Regions from separate parts of the Homo sapiens genome. Here region 2 is linked to region 1. A link means that fine-mapping ties the variant in region 1 to the expression of a gene that starts in the linked region. Tissue or cell type: whole blood. Region 1 holds a variant in brackets; the other region holds the start of a gene. All regions are shown on one strand. Distances are between the middles of the regions.

What was found. PIP is the estimated chance that this variant, and not a neighbour inherited with it, causes the effect.
Region 2: it holds the start of SNED1, and the variant in region 1 is fine-mapped to the expression of SNED1 in whole blood (TOPMed, PIP 0.98).

What each region holds. Positions count from the first base shown.
Region 1 is chr2:240,956,816-240,966,414 of GRCh38, reverse strand. CROCC2 (ciliary rootlet coiled-coil, rootletin family member 2) reads right to left here. Exons shown (of 32, transcript NM_001351305.2): 20 at 6,971-7,114; 21 at 2,642-2,859; 22 at 1,790-1,949; 23 at 897-1,034; 24 at 422-779; 25 at 6-190. UICLM (up-regulated in colorectal cancer liver metastasis) reads left to right here. Exons shown (of 9, transcript NR_033841.1): 2 at 2,239-2,426; 3 at 2,669-3,151; 4 at 6,997-7,175; 5 at 7,293-7,338; 6 at 8,798-9,053. Among named protein-coding and RNA genes, the nearest start is that of UICLM, 5.8 kb to the left of the region's middle. RefSeq lists enhancers at 2,945-3,795, 3,796-4,647, 7,832-8,401. The variant G/A (reference allele first, on the strand shown) is at 5,551.
Region 2 is chr2:240,994,552-241,004,150 of GRCh38, reverse strand. SNED1 (sushi, nidogen and EGF like domains 1) reads right to left here and starts at 5,533. Exons shown (of 32, transcript NM_001080437.3): 1 at 5,101-5,533. The coding sequence starts at 5,313. RefSeq lists a silencer at 5,482-5,901.

The sequences.
Region 1 (9,599 bases):
ATTACCCGCTCCCGCTGGGCTTCCCGGAGCTTCTGCACAAAGTCCCGCAGGATGTCCTGCACGGTGGCCACATCCATGAGCTCTGAGCTGCGGCCTCCGGGTGTGGGCGAGGGCCATCGGAGGGGCGAGTGGGGCCTGGCTGGGGGGCTGGTACCCTGTTGCCCAGGGAGAGCCTGGGAGCTGTCGGAGCCTGCGGGAGGTGACAGCGGAGGGGTCGTGGACAGGAACACAGTGACAGATACACGCCCTTCCCCTTTCCTCTCTGCTGCCCCAGCCATGGGAGGTTGGGGAGACGGCCACAGGTTCCTACAATTGCCTGTCCGAGTCCCTCACTGTGTGAGTTGTGAGGCCTGAAAGAGAGGTGCCAGGCCAGGGACTGAGCTGGGAGAGGGGCCCGCCTGCCTCCACTGAGGACTCTGACCTTTGGTGGGGGAACCAGGCTGCTCCGGGGAGGCCCACGGGCTCTGTCTCTGGAGCCCCAGGCCACGGCGGAGCGTGGAGCACAGCCGGCCCAGCTGGGCCTCCGCATCCTGCCTTGCACCCTCAGCCTGGGCCAGCTCCTGCTCCAGGCTGTGGATTCGGTGACAGGCCTGGTCCAGGCGAGCCTGGAGAGCATCAGCCACACCACTGGCTTCCTGCAGCTTCCTGGTGACACTGTGCAGCTCTGCTCGGAGGGTCTGCTCAGCCCCCCGGCTCTCACGGAGGTGCTCCTGGAGCCGCTGTCCATGGGCCTCCCCTGCGGCCTCCACCTCTGCCAACTTCCTCTGCAATCCCAGGACCTGTAGGAGGGATGTTGGGGTGCGCCCGTGGGAGACAGTGAGGAAGTGGGGTGGGCCTCCTCCCTCTGCTCCCCGACGCCCAGCTCCTTCCCTTCTGACCACAGGCAGCCCTCCCACCTCCTTCCGGGCACCCTCGTGCTTGGCCTCTGCCTTGGCTGCCTGCCTCCGCAGCTCCAGCACCTCCTGCGAGCACTGCGCCTGCAGCTCATGGGCCTCTCCACTCCTCCTCTGGTTCTCGGCCTTCAGTGTCCTCACCTGGGAGCGTGGGGCCGCACGGACAGGGTCACTGGTCTCTGTGCTGGAACCCAGGCAGCCTCCCTGCCTCCTGCCTCCGCTCACACGTCCCTTGAGGGCAGCTGGCCACACTTAGGGAGGCTTGGGCTAAGGTGCCCCAAAGGACCTTGCCCTGGGAGTTGTCACCCTCAGCCACTCTGTAGACACCTACCTGGGACCTCCTCGGAACCTCCTTGGAGGACCTGGGACAAGGAGGAGGCTCAGGTGGGGCGGGGTGGGCACTGATTAGGGAGTGTGGGCAGTGGCTGGGGTGCATTGGACCCAACTGCCCCGAGGCCGCCATTACAGGAGGGAGCCAGGCCTTGGGGGGACCCGGCTTGCCAGCACCCTGCCCTGCAGAGGCCAGGCCTCCCCTCTAGCCTGCCTGAGTTCCCGAGCGCCACCGGAAGGTGTTGCATGTAGGATACTTCCGTGTGCTGCTGTGCATGCCGGAAGGTGTTGCATGTAGGATACTTCCGTGTGCTGCTGGGCATGGTTCCCTTCCTCCTCGCTAAAGCATTCCTGGTTTTGCCCTCTCCAGTCTTGTCATCTGTGCCCCATGGGGACAGACCCAACCAGGGACCCTGTGAGCCTGAGCAGGGCGTGGCCCAAAGTCTGGGGACAGAGTGGTTCAAAGGCGGCAGCAAGGCCAGGGCTGGGGGCTCCCCTGGGAGGAGCCGGGACCCACCAGGCGGGAGGGTGCCTGGTTGGATGTTGACCCCTCCCTGCCGCCCTACCTGTCTGTGGAGTTCCCGGAGCTCCTGACGGGCGTCCCCCCCTGCCTGCTCCAGCTCCCACAGGTGGGCCCGCAGTGCACTGGCCTCCTGCTGCAACGCCGCCTGGGCCTCCTCCAGGATGAGCAGCTTCTGCTCCTTCTCCTCCTTGGACCGCTTAAAACTGACGAGGGTGCCACAGGCTGGGGCCCCCGCACCTCCTGGTGGGGCCAGCACAGCTGCCCAGCAGGTCTCTGCCTCCCCTAGTGAGGCACTGGCCCCAGTCTTGACTCTGCACAGTGTCCTCAAACTCAGCCTCTGCAGGGTTCCCTGTCACCTTACAGACATATGTCCACCCAGGTCCCGGTGCCGGCCGCATGGCCCCTGTCCACTATCCACCTCTTCAGCCCCTCCTCACCTCATCCCTCCCTGTCTCCCCCTCTCTGTCACACTCCCGGACGCTCAACATCCAGCCTAGCCTGGTACCTCTGCCACCTGCTGTGAGGGCTGTGCCATCCTGCCCAGCTGCCCCACAGGGGCCTTTCTAGAGCCCCAGCCAGGCCGTTGGCCTCCCTCTGCTCCCCAGCTCTGCACCACCTCCTGGAGGCCACCTGTGACCTATCTTGCCTGCTGGATGGGAACTCCCTGTGGGCAGGGACAGGTGTGTCCATGTCCTCAGCCATCCCTCGCACTGGCCAGCATTGCAGACCTCTTGGACTGGGCAGCGGGAGGCCTGCTTGGCATGTCTACCCCACCATCAGTGGGGCCCAAGTCAACAGGACGCCCCTGCCTAGCCCCCTTGCCCCATCCTCCCTACGGCCTGGGTGGGCAGCAGGCTGCAGGGCACCCCCAGCTGCTCCTGGGTGGCCGCCATACCTGGCCTTCTCCTGTTCGGCCCTGCAGATGGTGGCCCGCAGCTCGCTGTTGAAAAGCAACAGTACGTCCTTCTCGCGGGCCTCGTCACTCAGCGCCCGGCGGGCCTCCTGGGCCTCCCTGTGCAGCCCCTCCCGGCTCTCCTCGACGCCCTGCAGCTCCTGGCGCAGTGCGGCCAGTCCCTCCTGGGCCACGGTCAGCTGTGCCCGCAGCCTCTCAGCCTGGGGAGGACCATTCAGCTCTAGAGGCCCGCTGGGGACCACTGCTCCAGGGATAGCCACAGGGGCCTGTGGCCTCTGACATGGTGTGGCAGGCACAGGTGCCCTGCCCAACTTGGTCCCCATGCGCTTTGCTCACCCCATGGAGCCACCAATCCCTAGTGCTGCGGAGGCTGCAGGGCGGCTTCCACGGGCTGAGGCAGGGCCAGCCTAAGAGCCCAGAAGACCCCACCTTGAGCCCCTGGGCCCGGCCCCACGCTGCGGCCTCTCTGGACCCCCAGGACGCTGACCACTGGTAAGCAAGGCCTACCTGGGATGCGGCTCAGCACACGTGTCTGCACTGTCACTGCCTGGGGCCCTTCCCACCTCCTGCCCCCGGCGTCTAGTCCTCTCCTTAGGTGACAGTGTGGTGCCCAGGCCGCTGCCTGTCCTAGTGTGGGCAGCAGCCTCAGCAGGCAGGCTGGGCCTGACCCTGGCACAGTGACCCTGGCCCAGTGACCCCGGCACAGTGACTCTGCCACAGTGGGGGCTCACCCACTCCCTTGGCCTTCCTTCCCCCGTTGGCATGGGAGGCAGTGGGAGGAGGATCTCTGGCAATGGGGGGGCAGTGGGAGGAGGGTCTTGGTTTCCCGCTCCGGACACCAGGCATCTCACAGTGCCCGGGAGAACCCAGGGGTGGGGTCCGGAGGACAGTTGCAGCCTGGCAGGAAGGCCCTCCCCAGCACCTACGCTCTGGGGGTGGGGACTTGCTGGGGCTCGGCCCTGGCGCCCAGTCTCCTGCCTCCCAGGTCTGAGCTCTGGGCCTGACCAGAAACCCTGGAGAAGGCTCCATTCCGGCTCTCGTGTGTCCCAGAGGAGGAGGCGGAGGTAGCCAGCGGGGCATGCCCAGAGATGGAAGCCACAAAGACTCCGCGATGTCAAGTCGCTGGCTTGACAAAAGCAAACCCCTCTTTCTGGCTGTTTTCACGGGATATTGTCCAGGCCCCCGACCGGCCTGGCTCCCGAGGCTGCCGCTGTTATTGTTGTTCTGTTTTTGGGAAGGGCCAGAGCCTCCCCTCCGCTCCCCTCCACCCCCACACGTGGGAGCCATGACCGTGCTGAGCATTTTCCGCCGAGCTCAGCAGAAACCCGCCCAGAAGGTCAAGGACCAGCAAAAGGGCCCATGCATCATAAAAGAAACTGTTTTCATTTCCCAGCGCAGAGGAGATGAAAACAAGCAAAACAAATGCAGGGGAGGGCCTGCCCCCACTCCCGCCCCCACCCCACCCGCTCCCTCTGCCTCATGAGAACAGCCATCCCTTTTACAGGAATTTTACGGCCAAATCACTTAATGTGATTATAATAATTATTTCTTTGCTAGAAATTGTATAAACAGCCTCTTTTAAAAATCTCCTACAGGGAGGCAGCTCCAGAGCTCTGCAGGGAGGAGGGGCTGTGGAGGGAAAGCAGGGGAGGGTGAGAGTGTGTGTGTGTGTGTGAGTGTGAGTGCGTGTGAGTGTGAGTGTATGTGTGTGCGCGTGTGTGCGTGCGTGTGTGTGTGTGTGTGTGGGTGATGAGTGTGTGTGTGGGCCGGTGCAAGTGTCCTCTCTGTACGTGGTGTGCATACGTGTGTGTGCATGCATGTGTGTGCACGTCCGTATGCCTGTGCATGCACTACGTGTGTGTGTACATGTGTGTGATGAGCATGTGTGATGAGTGTGTGCGTGTGTGTCATGAGTGTATGTGTGCGTGCGTGTGTGTGAGTGTATGTGAGTGTATGTGTGAGTGCGTGTGTGTGATGAGTGTGTGTGTGTGAGAGCCAGTGCAGGTGTCCACTCTGTACGTGGTGTGCATACGTGTGTGTGCATGCATGTGTGTGCACGTCCGTATGCCTGTGCATGCACTACGTGTGTGTGTACGTGTGTGTGATGAGCGTGTGTGATGAGCGTGTGCATGTGTCATGAGTGTATGTGTGAGTGCGTGTGTGTGTGTGAGTGTATGTGTGATGAGTGTGTGAGTGTGATGAGTGTGTGTGTGTGAGCCAGTGCAGGTGTCCACTCTGTATGTGGTGTGCATACGTGTGTGCATGTATGTGTGTGCACGTCTGTATGCCTGTGCATGCACTACGTATGTGCATGTGTGCGCACACATGCGTGTGTGTGCTTGGTGCACGTTTCTGTGCACGCCTGTGTGCACTGTGTGGTGTCCATATGTGATTCCAGCGTGAGTGTGTGTGAGTGTGTGAGGCTTGTGTGTCTGCATTCAGCATGCACACACCACTCTGAGTGTCAAGTGTACACCGGTGTGTGTGGTCTCACTGCGTGGATGATGTGTATGCATGTGTGTGCACACGTGTGGACCTCAGGCAGGGTCTGAGAGACTGGAAGTTCCTCCAGTTTAAAGGTTGTGAAAAAGTTATGGTTTCCATGGTGACCCTGGGCCAGCCTGGCGCCTGCACGGGCTCTGCTTGCTTTTCTCTGTGATTGTTCCTCTTGTCCCCCTTAACCGTCCTCAGCTTTTAGCCCCCACTCCCTTTCTGGGCACCCTGCTCTGTTCTGCTCCTCTGAGAGCCTGACCTTCCCATGAGGCCTGCACTCCCTTCCTTGAGGCCAGCAGAACCAATGCACCCCCACCCTCTCCACACCTCCCCCTCCCCCTCCCCCTGCTGCCCCCAGTTTTGCAATCTCGTTTTGCTTCCCCGTGTGGTCGCTGACC[G/A]GGCCTGACTTTGAAATCTGTTGAAAGGAGACCTTTCTCCTTGGGGCCAATGTAAACAGCCGGTCATGTTAAATCATGTTCTCTTCCTCTCTCAGCCTGCCTCTCGGGGGTGCTTGGGGAGGGCTGAGCCCCTCTTCTCACTCTCCCCTGCCGGCCGGCCCGGCCTCTGGGGCGTGGTGTGCGCCAGCCGCTCGCTCCAGCACCAGGTCAGCTGCGCAGCCTCCAGCCTTGGCAAGCAGCCCAGGGAGTGTGCGAGGTCGCCCCGTCCCCGTGGGCCCCGCTGGGGCTCCAGCTGACCCTCCCCTCCTCTAGCCCAGATCCGCGTGCCCTCCTGCCCTTGCCACACACAGGCGTCCCCCCGTCCTGCCAACCCCCCTCAGAAATGCCTCTCCAATCTGCCTGCCCGCTGAGCCCAGGTGAGCCTAGCCCTGGCCACTCTTGCCCCCTGCCCAAGACTGTCCCCCACCCCACGTCACCATCATGTGGCTCCTGGGGGCCTCCGTGTCAACCTCGGGCCCTTGGCCAGGCCCAGGCACACCCCGAAATCTCCACTAACCCACTTATTTTCTTGCCTGCTGCCCCAAATCCAGCCTCCCCCGACCTTAGTGTCCAGCCCAGTGAAGTCCGCGCCTCCTGCTGTGTGGGCAGAGCCCAGCTTGTCTAGGGCCTCCCCGTGCCTCAGTGGATGGCTCGATGGGCCTCTTGGCCAAGGGTCCGAATTCCCCTTCGCCCCAGGTCATGCCTGTCTCTCGGGAAGGCTTTGGGAGGCGACAGCTGCCCCAGTGCCTCCAGAGTCAGGCCCTTCCTGACTCCACTTTCTTAACTGTGCGTGGAACGAGGGGGCCGGCTGGACTCCTGGAGCCTTTGGCTGCGTGGCTCTGGCCACCCTTTCACATGCTGGCCCTCCCAGCGGCAGGTGTGCCCCTCCAGTGCCCTGGGAGCTGGCAGGTGTGCTGTGCACCTTCCCAGGACAAGCAGGGCAGCAGGAGCCGCGTCGGGACCCACGGCAGCCTCCAGGGAGCTCCCTTCCCACTCAGCTGGCACCGTGACCCAGCCAAGTCCACCTGACTCAGCCAGGCCCACTTTCACCCTGAAGTCAAACTCACCCCTTCAGGAGGCTTAGAAATGATGCCTTCTTTCCCCTGAAAACTGGTGTCAGCTTCCCTTAGCCAATGGCCTGGGCCAGGCACCATTTCATCTGCCCTGAGAGCCTGGGCTTGGCTTAGTGCGTGGTGTGAGGGCCCCTTGTCCCATGCCCCTATGGCTGTTTGCCTCTTCCTAGTCCCAGGGACTACTCTTCCCTTCTCTGTGGTACAGCCTCTCTTTCCTCCTGGCACCCCCACTCTCTCCTCTCTTGGTACCTGCCCTGCTTTCTCCTGTCCTCTGGCATCCCCAGGAGCCCCCCAGCCCTGCCTCTCACCTCTCTCTCCACATCGCCCCGCTCAGCCGCTAGGTCCTGGAGGCTCTCGCGTAGGGCCGTGGTCTCCCTCTGATGGGCTGTGATGGCATCCTCAAACTGGGCCTGGAGGGCCTTCAGCTCCTCAGTCGTGGCACTGATGGTGGCCTGCGGGGAGAAGGGAGCCCACGGTGGCACCAGGGAGCTGGGCCCAGCAGTGGAGGGTGAGGTAAGGCCAGGACCCTGGAGAGAGAGGTGTTGCAGTGGCCTGGGAGGGGGAGCCGGGTCCTGCTGATCGTGCAAGCCCCGGGGTAACTGGCCCTTGGTTTCCTAAACTGTCAAACAGGCTGCTGGGATGAGGAGACATCCACGGCCCCTGACAGCTGTGATGTGTGAGTGCCCACGGACACAGCAGGAGGCAGCCCCTCAGCTCAGCCTGCGCCCTGGGGCAGGGCCCATCCCTACAGGGACCACCACACACTGGGCAGCTCTACCCTCCATTTGGGACTGAGCTCAGCTGGAGTCGGCTCCCTGTCGCACACACCACCCGAGGTGTCCTCTCGGGCCTTGGGGCAGTGTGGCCAGCAGGGATCCTCGGGCCAGGAGGCCCCAGGCTCAGCCCATGGCCCCTTGTTCATGGACAAATACCACCTTCTTCACCCCAAGCCCCAGGCCCCTCGGGACACCACCCCGCTTCCTCTCAAGGCCCTCCCCACTGCACCCCTGCCCAGGTTGCGGCAGCAGGGCAGATGGGGCTCAGGGGGTCTCAGCTTCCTGGGCCTCAGTGTCCTCAACATGAAGGGTCCGAGCCCTGCCCTGCTCAGGCTCTGCACCCCTGGGTTCAGGGGACTGGACCAAGCCTCCAGGCAGCAGCAGGCGGCTGGCGGGGGGCGGCTGGTGGGGGATGGCTCCCTCCAGAGCTGGCTTTGTGTTCCTGGGGGCACAGGTGCCCACATGGCTGCCCCTGTGCCAGATCTCTGGAGCCCCTCCTGTCCACCTGGATTCTGCTAGGGTGGGGGTTCCTGCAGCCTGTGCCCCCTGCTCTTGGGAAAGGAGCCATGCTGCTGCCTCCTGTCGTCATTCTTTACAACCCCCTCTGGTCTCTCTGGACTGAGAAGGGCCATCTTGGGTGACTAGGCCATGGCTCTGTGCCTCAGCATGCCCCAACACTGCCAGTGATGGGTGCCCCTGAGGCCTGGCTGCAGGATACCCCTGTGAGGGCCTCAGGGACAGGGCATCGGCTGGGAGCCCGATGGCAGTGGTGACTCAGCCTAGGGGCGCACGCTGTCCTGTCATCTGGCGCCTGGTGCTCCTTGGCCGGCATTCCTCTCCTCCCGCTCCTCTCAACAGTTTTAATTTCCATTTTCTGAGCCGAGGTGGCAAAGGAACCCTTAACGAGCTCCCCAGGAAGGCCGGCTGGCTGGCAGGCCTGGTACCGAGTCCGGGGGAGACTCAGGGCCAGCTCAAGAGAAGGCTCCAGAAGCCAGCACTGGCTCCAGAGAAGGCCCCTCTGTGAGCCAGAGGCATCAGCTCCCAGGGCCCCAGGAGGGCTTTCCTGGGTCCCTGCCCACGGGGTGGAGCCAAGAGAGCTGCTGGGCCAGTGGTCGGGAGGAGGGAGGGGCATGGTCACAGGCCCGATGCCAAGCTTGGTCCTCCTGGGCCCCGTGGAACCCTCCAGGCCTCAGGGGCAGGAACAGAGCAGGGTGGGGCTTCATGGAGTGAGGGGCAAGTCTCCCCTGGGCTGCCAGGAGCTCCTCTGGGCAGCCCTGCTTGAAGGGACTAGGAGTCCGGGTTGTGGCATCAGGCAGGAGGAGGTGAAGCGACACTCCAGCAGCCGCCTCCTCATTGCAGCGCCCTCTCCCGCTGCGCAGTGCCCTGGGGATGGGGCACAAGCCCTCCATCCCGGCTCCGAGTCACCGAGCGTCCCCCAAGGCCCCGCTGCCTGGACGCCCCGGCCCCCCAGCAGGCGGCCTGCGCGTGCCTCTGTGCAGTCAGTGAGAAGGGCTCCCGTTCAGAATGGGCAGAGAAGGGGGCTGCCTCCCGCGCCTGGCACCATGGCCTGTGTTCTGTTCACTGCACACTGAACCATACATTCAACGCCAGTCAGGTAGGTGTCCAACCCTGCGTCCTTGCCAGGGACAGGGAGGAAAGGCTCGCCTGAATTTAAAATAAGCCAACAAGTACGGGAATGAACGGCCTCGTCACTGAACATGCTGGGAGCTGGAAGGACAGAGGCAGGAGGCAGGTGTGGGCCCAGCTAATGGGGTGTGTGTGGCCAGGGAGGGCAGAGAGCTGGGGGTTGGCGATCAGCCTCGCCCTCAATCCTACCTGTTCCTGGCAAGGAGAGGAGTGGCGTCCGGTGCCTTGAGCCCATTCCCTCCCTGCCCAGGGCACCCTCGCACCTGTGTCTATTCAGGGCCAGCCCCTGCCACCCAGGACAGCAGCCCCGACCTCAACACAAACAGCCTCTCCTCAGGCCGCCTGGGCCCTTGGAGATCCTGCTGTAACTCCTGCATCTATGTCCTATCGCTGGGCTCTGGCCACCCCCCACTGTGAGCCAGGCCCCCATCTATGTCCTATCGCTGGGCTCTGGCCACCCTCGCTGTGAGCCCTGCCCAGTCTCTTCATCTCCCATGCGGGACCTGGTGCCCCA
Region 2 (9,599 bases), 38 kb before region 1:
CTTTCTTCATGGCTCCCCTGGTGGGATGTGGGGATCATTTTGTGCCTCAAGCAGAGGCCAGCCTCACCCCCAGGCTCATCCCCACTCCAGGATCTTCCCCTCCATACATGCATCAGCTTCTCTCCTTCCTCACATAGGACAGCCTGGCCCTGTCCAGCCCAGGGGCTTCCAGCCCTATTCCAGCTCACTCAGCCAAGAAAGGGCTCATCAGAAACCAGAGATGTTAGAAGGCAGAGGGCAGTATAAATGATAACCAACATTTTTTTGGTCACCTTTACAAATTGCTGCTCCTGTGTGCAGCCTTATGGCTTCTCGTGGCCCATCACACACAGAAGTGTCACAGATAACACTTCATGTCAGTATCACACAAACTGACCTGTCTTCCCTGTGAGTCTCTTCTCTAAGCAGGTCACCTGCAGAGGTGGGGCAGTGCAGACAGAGACTTTCCTTATGGGGCCCAGCATGCAGCCAGGACCCCCTACCACACTACCATGTTCCAACAGCTGTGCCTGTGCCATGGGTCAGGCCAGTCCTGGGAGGGAGTCGGCTGTGGGCTGAGGCTGAAGTGTGCAGGTCCTGCATCTCTGTGTGGAAAAGCTGACTCCCAGGCTAAGGCTCACCCTGTCAGGGAAGGTGGGACTGCTTCTGCTTTGGGGAACACACGGTGCAGAAATGTGCTGGTGGCCAAGACCATGAGCCCACCATGTGGATGTGGCACAGGAGGACTTACTGCTCAGGGTGCAGGCATCTTGCTGCATGCATCCTCTGGCCTCAGCAGGGGTGGAAGAGAGAGTCCTTCACCAGGGCACCACCACCACTGCAGCCCCAGGCTGTCGTCTGAGGCCTATTCTGAGCCCAACACCAGAATGGTGGCATGAGGATGGATGTGGTCCCTGCCTTCATGGGGTGCACATCCCAACACCTCCCAAACAAGAAAACTAAGGAGCAACCCAGCTGAGGTCAGAACCAACAAGCTGCAGTGAGCACAGAGGGTGGGGCTGGGGGAGTGCCTGAGCGGGGGGCCCGGGGGAGGGCGGAGGGGGGCAGGGAAGCGTAGCGGGGATTCTGGCGAGGAGAGACAGGATCCCACTGGTGTTTTGTATGGCTCCCTTGGTCACTCTGCACAGAGGAGGGCAGGCTGGAGGGAAAGGCCAAGAGCTGGAGGTCAGCAAGGGGGTGCTGCAGGTGTCCAGGCAAGTGGGGATGGACAGCTGGGAAGTGGTCCAAGTAGAGAGGCAGGCGGAGCTGCTGCTGACGTGGAGGGTGAGGGAGAGGAGGGAGGCATTGGGGAGGCTCTCAGGGGTTTATTCATGGAGATGGGTGGGCGCCAGGGAGGAAGCAGGACTTCTGTTTGGGTCCCACTGAGTTTGGGGTGGCACAGTAAGAGGCAGCTGGACGCAGGAGTCTGAAGGCCCCTGAATCTGCATTCTGAGCCTCGGTTTCCTCATCTGCACTGGGCATGACGTCCTGCTCCATCCTCTCAGGGGCTGCCTGTGAGGTCCAGGCAGATCACAGCTGTCCTGGGCTCATGGCCTTGACCTGGAGTCATCAGGCTCTCTCACTCCAGCATCCTCCTCGACTCCAGCCCCATTCCACTTCCCCAGGATCCCCTTCCATCTGCTTCCGTCACACCCAGGCAGCAGCAAGAAGGGCATGCTGATGAGGGGCAGGACCACCTTGGCCAAGCCCATAGCAGGGGGTGGGCCAGCCCGGGAACCTCAGTGAATAGGGCAGCCAAGGGGAAGCCCAGGACCCTCCTCCCAGCCAAGGGGCTCCTGCATTTGCTGGGGTGTTCCATGAGCTCAGAAGAGAGCAGAGATGGCAGTGATTTCTCCCCACATGTCTGCTCCCAGATCCACTCATGCGCAGGCCTCGGTCCCACTGAGACAGTCCCTGTGGGTCAGGGTGGATTTTCCAGATGGCTTGGAGCTGGCGACCACACAACCGTGACAGTGATGGGGTGTGTCACAGGTATGACCTGATGGGGGAGCTTCACCACACAGATGGGGAGACAGAGGCTCAGGGAGGAAATGACCAGGCAAAGGTCACAGGCTGCATGTGAACTCCCACACCAGAGCAGCTGCCCTGGGCTCCGTGTTCTGGGAGGGGTAGGGCCGGGACTGTGCCTGGATGGTAATGTTGTGCAGAGCCAGAGCCAGCAGACTTGCGGTGTGGCACGAAGCCTCAGGGCACAGAGTGGGGGTTTAGCCAGCACCAGCGAGGGTCAGTCTGACTGTCCACATTCCTCCTTCTTGCCTGCGGGCTCTGCAGGGCACCACCCACTCTTGACCCTCAAATCCTCCCTGCCTCTGCTCAGGGCTCTGTCGGGGGTCCTGATGCCAAAGAAACTGAGATCCTCCCATGGCCCAGAGACCATGCTGTGGATGGGGGCAGTGCTTGGAGCCAGGAGCTTCAGTGTAGGGGGCACCAGGAAGATTTCGTCTCTCATTCCCTGCACCTGCCCCTAGGAAACCACTCCACCTGCATAAGCCCCACAGACCGCGGCAAGCTCCGTCTTAATGCAGACACTGGCAGTTCCTGCATGGCAGGATAGCGGCAGCATGCCACACTCCTCAGCACGCCACACTCCTCGGCGCGCCACGCTCCTCGGCTGCATTATCTTTGTCTGTGTGTAGAACCTTAGCAATAAAATGCACTTTCAACACTTTTCAGAGCCTTACGACTTACCACACACATACAGCTACTATGACATGAGAAAGAAGCAAAACAATGGGTCCCTTCTGGAAAGGGGGCCACTCCATGTGTGGCAGAGCTGTCTTGCTAGGGCAGTAATCCATGTGCTATTTCTGATGAAGACAGAAGAAGCACCCATCTCATGCAAGAGCACTTCTAATTTCTACCTGTGACTTGCAGGCAGTGTCAGAGGGAGGCACATTCATTCATTCAGACAACAAGCCTACTCTTGGTCAAGCGACAGGCTGGGGGCGGAGGAGCGCAGAGGTCACTGCAGTGGGATGGGGGCTGGAGGGTCCTGGCTGGGCCTGACATGGGAGTCTGAGTCCAGGGCCAGCAGACACGAGGCCCCTATAGACTGGAGCTGGACAAGGGCCAGAGCCAGGGGCCTCAGAAGAGGGTCCGCTCGGCCTGGGTGGGCGTGGGAGGCCCCAGGCAGGTCCACTTCCTTCAGAACAAATGCCTCCCTTCTTTCCACCTGGCTTCAGCCCTAACCTGCTGCCAAGCACCCCTTTCTCTCTCCCTGCTTGACCACAGAGTCCGCACAGTTACTTCAGGCAAGGTGTCCTGGGCAACGCAGCCTCAAGCCTCCTGCTGAGCAAACAGAAAGGTGAAGTGCACTGCAGGCACTGTGTCCACATCGGCAAATGGTTTTCAAATAATATCTTTGTTTCAGGAAAAAGCTCCGATGGAGATAAATGTTTTGTTAGCAGCCAGAAGGTTCATTTCTGACGAAACCCTAGTTCTCCTAGCAGATCTTCCCACGTTAGAGCTGTTTCCCCTAGTTGCTCTGGCAAGGGCAGATGTTTTTGGTGAGGCTGTTAAGTGGGTTAACCATTTTAATAATATTTTCACCTGTGACTGTGAGTGGGAAAGCTGAGCCTGGCCCAAATGCTTAAGGAGCCTCTTGAGTTCTGTTCGGATGGTGCCAATGTGAGTGTCCCATACCTCAAGTGGACAGGCCTCCTCCAGCTCGGGCCAACGCTGAGCACCATTCTGTCCTACCCACTTCGTACTTCCAGGAGTCAGTCCCGTTCCTCTGTCCAAGTCCCGGTCCAGAGGGACTTTCAGGGGGTAGCACCGACAGCATGGCTGCCCCTCCCACCAGTCAGGTCACCCAGTGCTGCCACCGAGGTGGGGAGGCCTTCCTGAGCAGGTGTGGAAAACGCAGTGGGCGCTGTGGATGGTGTTGGCAGTTGTGGGGTGGGAGGCGCACTAGAGGGCATGTGGTGGAGGAGGCCCTGTGGATGGAGGTGGGGAGGGATGATGACAACCATGCAGAGGATGTGGATGGTGACGACGGGAAGCTGGGGACCATGGGGAAGGTGGTGGTGGAGGCAGTGCTGCTGGTGGTGGGGTTGAAGGAGGTGGTGTTGACGGAGGAGTTGGCAGTACAGGTGGTGTTACTCCGGGCAGCACAGATGGCAGAGGCGATGTGGCTGGCAGTGGGTTGAGGCTGGAGGTGGGCGAGGGTATGAGAGGGCTGATGGTGGAGGTGGCCGTGGTGACGGAGCTGGAGGGGACTCTACTTGAGGCTGGCCCAGCAGTTTTCTAGATATGATCTGGGGTGTTTCAGGGAACCACCAGGTACCAGTGCACCGTGGCCTACTCAGGGCGAGTGCTCCATGCAGTTACCAGGTGCATTTCATTCCCTGGGCTGCCATAAGGGCTTGGCCTGGGGTCACACTCTGGGAGCCATGGAGACAGAACCGGCACTCGGGCCTGTTCCTTCAGCTGAGCTGAGCCTGCTGTCATGAGTCCCTGGCCCCAGGAGTCCCACTGGGAGTCCTGTTTGGAGAGTCTGAGCCTGAGCGGCCAGCCCCCAGACTGCGGAGAGGACGGCAGGGAGGGGCAAGCCTGTTGCTAGCCCGCCTAGGAGGGTCAGCGAAGAAGCAGGCCCTGCCCTGAGCGCCTGGGCAAGGGGTCCAGCCTCCTGGCTCTGGGCCGCACTGGCGTCCACGGGGGGCGGGGCTGAAATGGCCCAAGGAGGGGCTGCAACCTTCGCAGGCCCGGCGCCCCACTTGGGAAACTGAGGCCCGGGAAGCCCGTGCCCACGGCCACATTGCCATGTGTGAAAACCAGGGCAGTACCAGGACCCCTGCTCTCCCCTGGGAATCAGGCGCCGGGAAGACGCGCTCGGCAGGTCTGGCAGGGGCCGGGGCGCCGCGCTCCACTCGCCCCCGCCTCGGTGCCCGGCGGCTGCCGCCCCCGCCCCGCCCGCGCGCCTCTCCCGCGGGCCGCTGTCCGGCCTTGGCCGCCGAGGAGGAAGCGCTGTCCTCATTCCACCTCGGGCCGCCCCGGTGCCAAGTGGCTGGCGGCGGCGGCGGGAGTCCGGGCCCGGCGGGCAGCGGCCGGGGCGCAGCTCCCTCCCCTCCCGGGCGCCCCGCGAGCCCGGGGGTTACTCACGTAGAGTCCGGAGTGCTCGGCACCGAAGAACGGGAAGGGCACCGAGAGCGGCCGCAGCCCCGAGCCGCCGTCGTCCTGCTTGGGGGTGACGGCGTCGCCGCGCTCGGCGCCGAACGGGTAGAAGTCGGCAAGGGCCACCGCGCCGCGCACCCCGCGCGCCCCAAGCCCCAGGGCCGCGGCCACCAGCAGCGCCCAGGCGACGCCGTGCCGCATCGCGGAGGTGTGCGGGCGGGACGGGGCGCTGGCGGAGCAGGGCGCTGGGGGACTAGGCTGCGCGCGGGGGTGGCCGGCAGGGCCAGGCGGGGTGCGGGGAGCGCGGGCGCGCCCGCTGGCCGCGCCGTCGGGGGCTCCGCGTCCCGCGCCCGTTCGGCCGGGCCGCGCTCTCGCCGCAGCTCCGCAGAGGAAAGCGCCGGGCGGGACCGCGTTCGGGGCCAGCCCCGCCCCTGGGGCCACGATTTAAATATCCAGCCCGGCGGTCACTCGGGGGGGCGGGGCCATGCAAATCGGGCGTCTCTTAAAGCGCCAGGCCCCGTGGGAGGGCGCGGGCGCGCGGGGAGCTCAGTCCCCTGGCGTGGGCACAGGCAAGGTGAGGGCTCTGCGGGCGCGCGCCCTGTGGTGGGGCCATGCTCCGCCCTGGGTCCCTACCCTGGTGGAGGCGCCTGGGCCCTCAGTGCCGTCCTGGGACAGACCTGTGTCCCTAAGGCCTGAGACGCTGGGCCCGCCCTGAAGGCGTGTCATCACGCGGGGGGCGGGAGGGGACCCTGGCCAGGCAGTGCCTGAATGAACCCGTTCCGTGCTGCCCCCTTCCCAGCCCTGAGCATGGGGACGCCAGGCTTCCAGCCACAGGGGCAGACTAACCCCGGAGCCCACTCCCTGCCTGGGTCTGTGTGAGGAAGAGCCCGGGCCGGAGACTAGGAGGCATGGAACAAAGTGTTTGCATCTGCGTGGCCGCATCAGGAGAAATTCCTGGGAGGCTCGGGACCTCGGGGCGACCCCTGGGTAAAGCAAACCCTCCGTGGGGAAGACTGACCCACTCAGGCCCTGGGGGCAAGTGCGTGCATGACACCGGCCTTGGCAGGTGGGGGCAGGACTCTGAGTCCCAGTATTTGAATTCAGGGTCCCCACCCTGTGGCCTGCCAGCCCTGCCCCCTGTCTCTTGGGCTGCTGGCCTGGGCTGCCTGTCTGTCCTTCCTCAGGGCCTCAGCCGGGACCACCTCTATGTCCCCAGGCCCATGGCAGGGTCTGATTCCTGGAACTCACCCGGCCCACCGTGGTCTCTTCTCTTAGATCCTGGTGTTGGGTGGTGTTGGCTGCGTGCCACACTGGGGCCCCCAAAGATAAGAGTGCACCCCTCGAAGACAAGCAGGAAAGGCCGGGCTGATGGTAACTGCATCTACCACTGAGGTGCTGGGTGGTTTTTTGTTTGTCTTTGCGTTTGTATCTTCTGAAATATCTCAAGTGAGCACGTGTTGTTTTTCAGTGAGAGCCAGGCACAGTCAATGTTATTTTTAAGAAGCAGCGGAGGGTTCTCTGCGTGTGACTGGGTGTTGCCGGTTCTCACAGATCCTGCACTTGGTGTTTTCACTCAGAGGTTCATGACCCTTTAGACTTGGTGTCAGGGCCGGGTGCAGAATTGTTAAGGAGGAGCTGACCCTGCACTGGCACCTCCTGAAAGCTTGCCCCTGGCGCCTCTCCCACCCTGCATGGGGTGGCAATTCTGTTTGCAGAGAGGCAAACTGGGCCTGGGAGGGGAAGGGCTCTGTCCCGCAGTTAGCCCTTAGGTCACCGTCCCAGCTTTCAGAGCTCCAGGACAGCAGCACAGCCATGGTTCCAGGGCCAGAAAGGTCAAGGCCTCCTGTCTTTGGAGGGAGGCACCAGAGAGGGCGTGGAACTGTAGAATCCCTACTTGAGGCCGGCTCTCGGTGAGAGCCTGGCAAGGAGAGACATGTCTCCACGCACATGCACACACGTCCACGCACACATGCATACTTATTCACATGCACGGAGGCAGCATATGCCCATACGTGGGGCCTCAAGAACATGCTTTAACCCCTTCCTCAGCCCAGCCCTGGCCTCCCTGGTCAGGGAGGGCTGCTCCCACCTCTGGCTGGCACAGGCCGTGGAGTCAGGACAAGGCCCCATGTAGCAGCGTTGGGAACAGAGCTGCCAGGCGTCACCGTGGCGGGAATCAGGGAGAACGCTTTTCTATTTGTCTTTTTTCTAGAAAAACCTGGCAGCCCTCTACCCTCTTTTCAGTGCATTTGGGGCCTGGCTGGAAGGCCCCTCCGGTGAGTTTGCGAAGGTGGGAGGCGGCAGTGCCAACCCCAGGGCAGGATTTCTCCGCTGAAGAGGTGTTGTCATGGGGACGTGAGGCTTTGACCCCCACTAGGGCTGGCCCACCTCCTGCCCTGTCCCTACTACCCATCCACTTCCCACCACATGCTCCTGCTCTGCTCTCAGAGCCCAGCCTGGGGTGCTGCCTCCCAGCCAGCTGCCCAGGCCAGGCGCCCTTCTCCCCACTGCTGACCTTCTCTTGAGCACACAAGACAGGGACCTGGGTAACAACCCATTTCTGGGCTGGGTTTGGGTCAACTTGGGGGCAGGGCCGCCCAGGGCACCTTGGGGCACACAGTGGCACTCAGTGGCTGCACCGAGTGGAGGCCTGTTTCTTCAGGCGGGTGGGCTGGTGGGCCTCACGGGGGTCGCTGAGCAGTGCTGGAAACGCTCAGGCCCGTCCTCGTCCCAGAGAGTCAGAGCTCATGGGCCTGGGGCGTGGCTGGCAGTGGGCCAGACCCTGCTCATGGCCCAGAGAGGCCACACTTCCTCGGGCCTGTACCCTGCTGACCAGCCTCGGCCTGCACCCTGTGCAGATTTTCAGCCGGGCCCGGGGAGCTGGGGGTTAACAAAAGGCCCCGCTGCTGCTGGGCATTACATTTCATTAAAAAAAAAAAAAACAAAAAAAAAACAACACAACTCTGCAGGCAAAAAAGAGAAAAAAAAATGTTTTTCTCAGGTGCTAAAAATATTATCAGGAAATACTTTTCAGCAATGTGCTGTTTTAGGCTCCCCTCTGGACTCAAGGGCGCCTTTGTCTCTGCCACAGAAAATCCACATTTATCAAAACCAAAATTGTTTTATCAAGCAGGCTCATGTTCTGTGGCCAGGAAACCCGAGCCTCCCCAACCGGCCTGTGACATTTTAATTTAGGGCCTGAGCGTGTGTGCAATTTAGATGGGGTGCCCCGGGAGCTGCCCTCAGGATGCCCCAGGACTCGGGGCTCCACGCAGGCCAAGGTGGGGGTGCCCTCCCCAACCTGCACCTGGTTGGCTGGGCCTGTTTGGTCTTCACAGGGTGGAAGATCCTGGGGGTTCAGGCCTGAGCTGCCAGGGGCAGGGGCTGGCTGGCTGTAGCCCACCCTAACTTTCTCTCCTTCTCTCCCAGAAGTGGCAGGTGGAGTGCAGGTCCCCTGCCCCAGAAGCGCTGATCCCAAGTAAACCTCCACATGCTCCGGAATGAGGCCAGGAGGTCACAGGGACCAAGGGCCGCTCCACCTGCTCACCTGGTCACTGTCCTGTGTGGCTGGTTGGGGTCTTGGTGCAGTTGGCCCTGAGGGAGTGTGGGGGCCATGCAGCCTGCCCTGTACCTCCTCTTCTCATGCACACGGAGCCGCACACACATTGACTCCCATGACGGGACTTCTGTGGTTGCTCTTAGGGAAACGATGGGACTGGGGTTCAACACTTCCTTCCCAGGATGTTCACTGCTGCGTGGGCTCAGGCATCGGCTCTCCCTGTCCTGGGGATGACGAGACCCTGCCTCCCGTTGAGAGCCTTGTCCATCTCCTGAGTGCCCAAGACAGGACAGAGCCCCATTCTCTGTGGGCTCCAGGATGGCAGGGACAGCCAGCAGTGGAGGGACACTCAGGCCCAGGGTCCTCCGATGCCCCGGAGCTTCCGCAGCAAAAAAACCATGCTCTGAGACGTTTTTAGTGATTCGGGAAAACTCTAACGGTATTGTGTCAAGCAAAAGTTTTAAAAAATAGTACTCTGAGTAGCATCCACGCTATGGCCTCAACCGTCCTAAGCACACGTGTGCTAGAAAAAGGGAGAGTTGGGTGTCACCTCGGGGCTCTGCAGGTCACAGATTATGGTGGTGGTTACATTCTCCTTTCTATGTTTCCCTGCTAACATTTTTTGCAATTAATTTGAAAAGTATGAATGTTTTGGAAGCCCAGATAAACAATGCCCTTGGTTCCAGCTGGCCGGCTTCCTGCCCCGGCTTCAGCCAACCAAAGCTTGTGCTTCCCTCAACCTGGGGTGCTTCAGAGGGCTGGCCTGTCCTTGGGTGCCGCCGTCTGCGTTCAACATGGCCCCTCCTCCAGTGCCCCCTCCCCAGGGGGCCTTCCTCTCCCATTTGTCCCCTCCCTGTGTTGGTCTGCAACCCCTGGATGCCTGCAAAGGGTGCTGCCCCCGGACCCAGGCACCTGAGGGCCTGTCAGA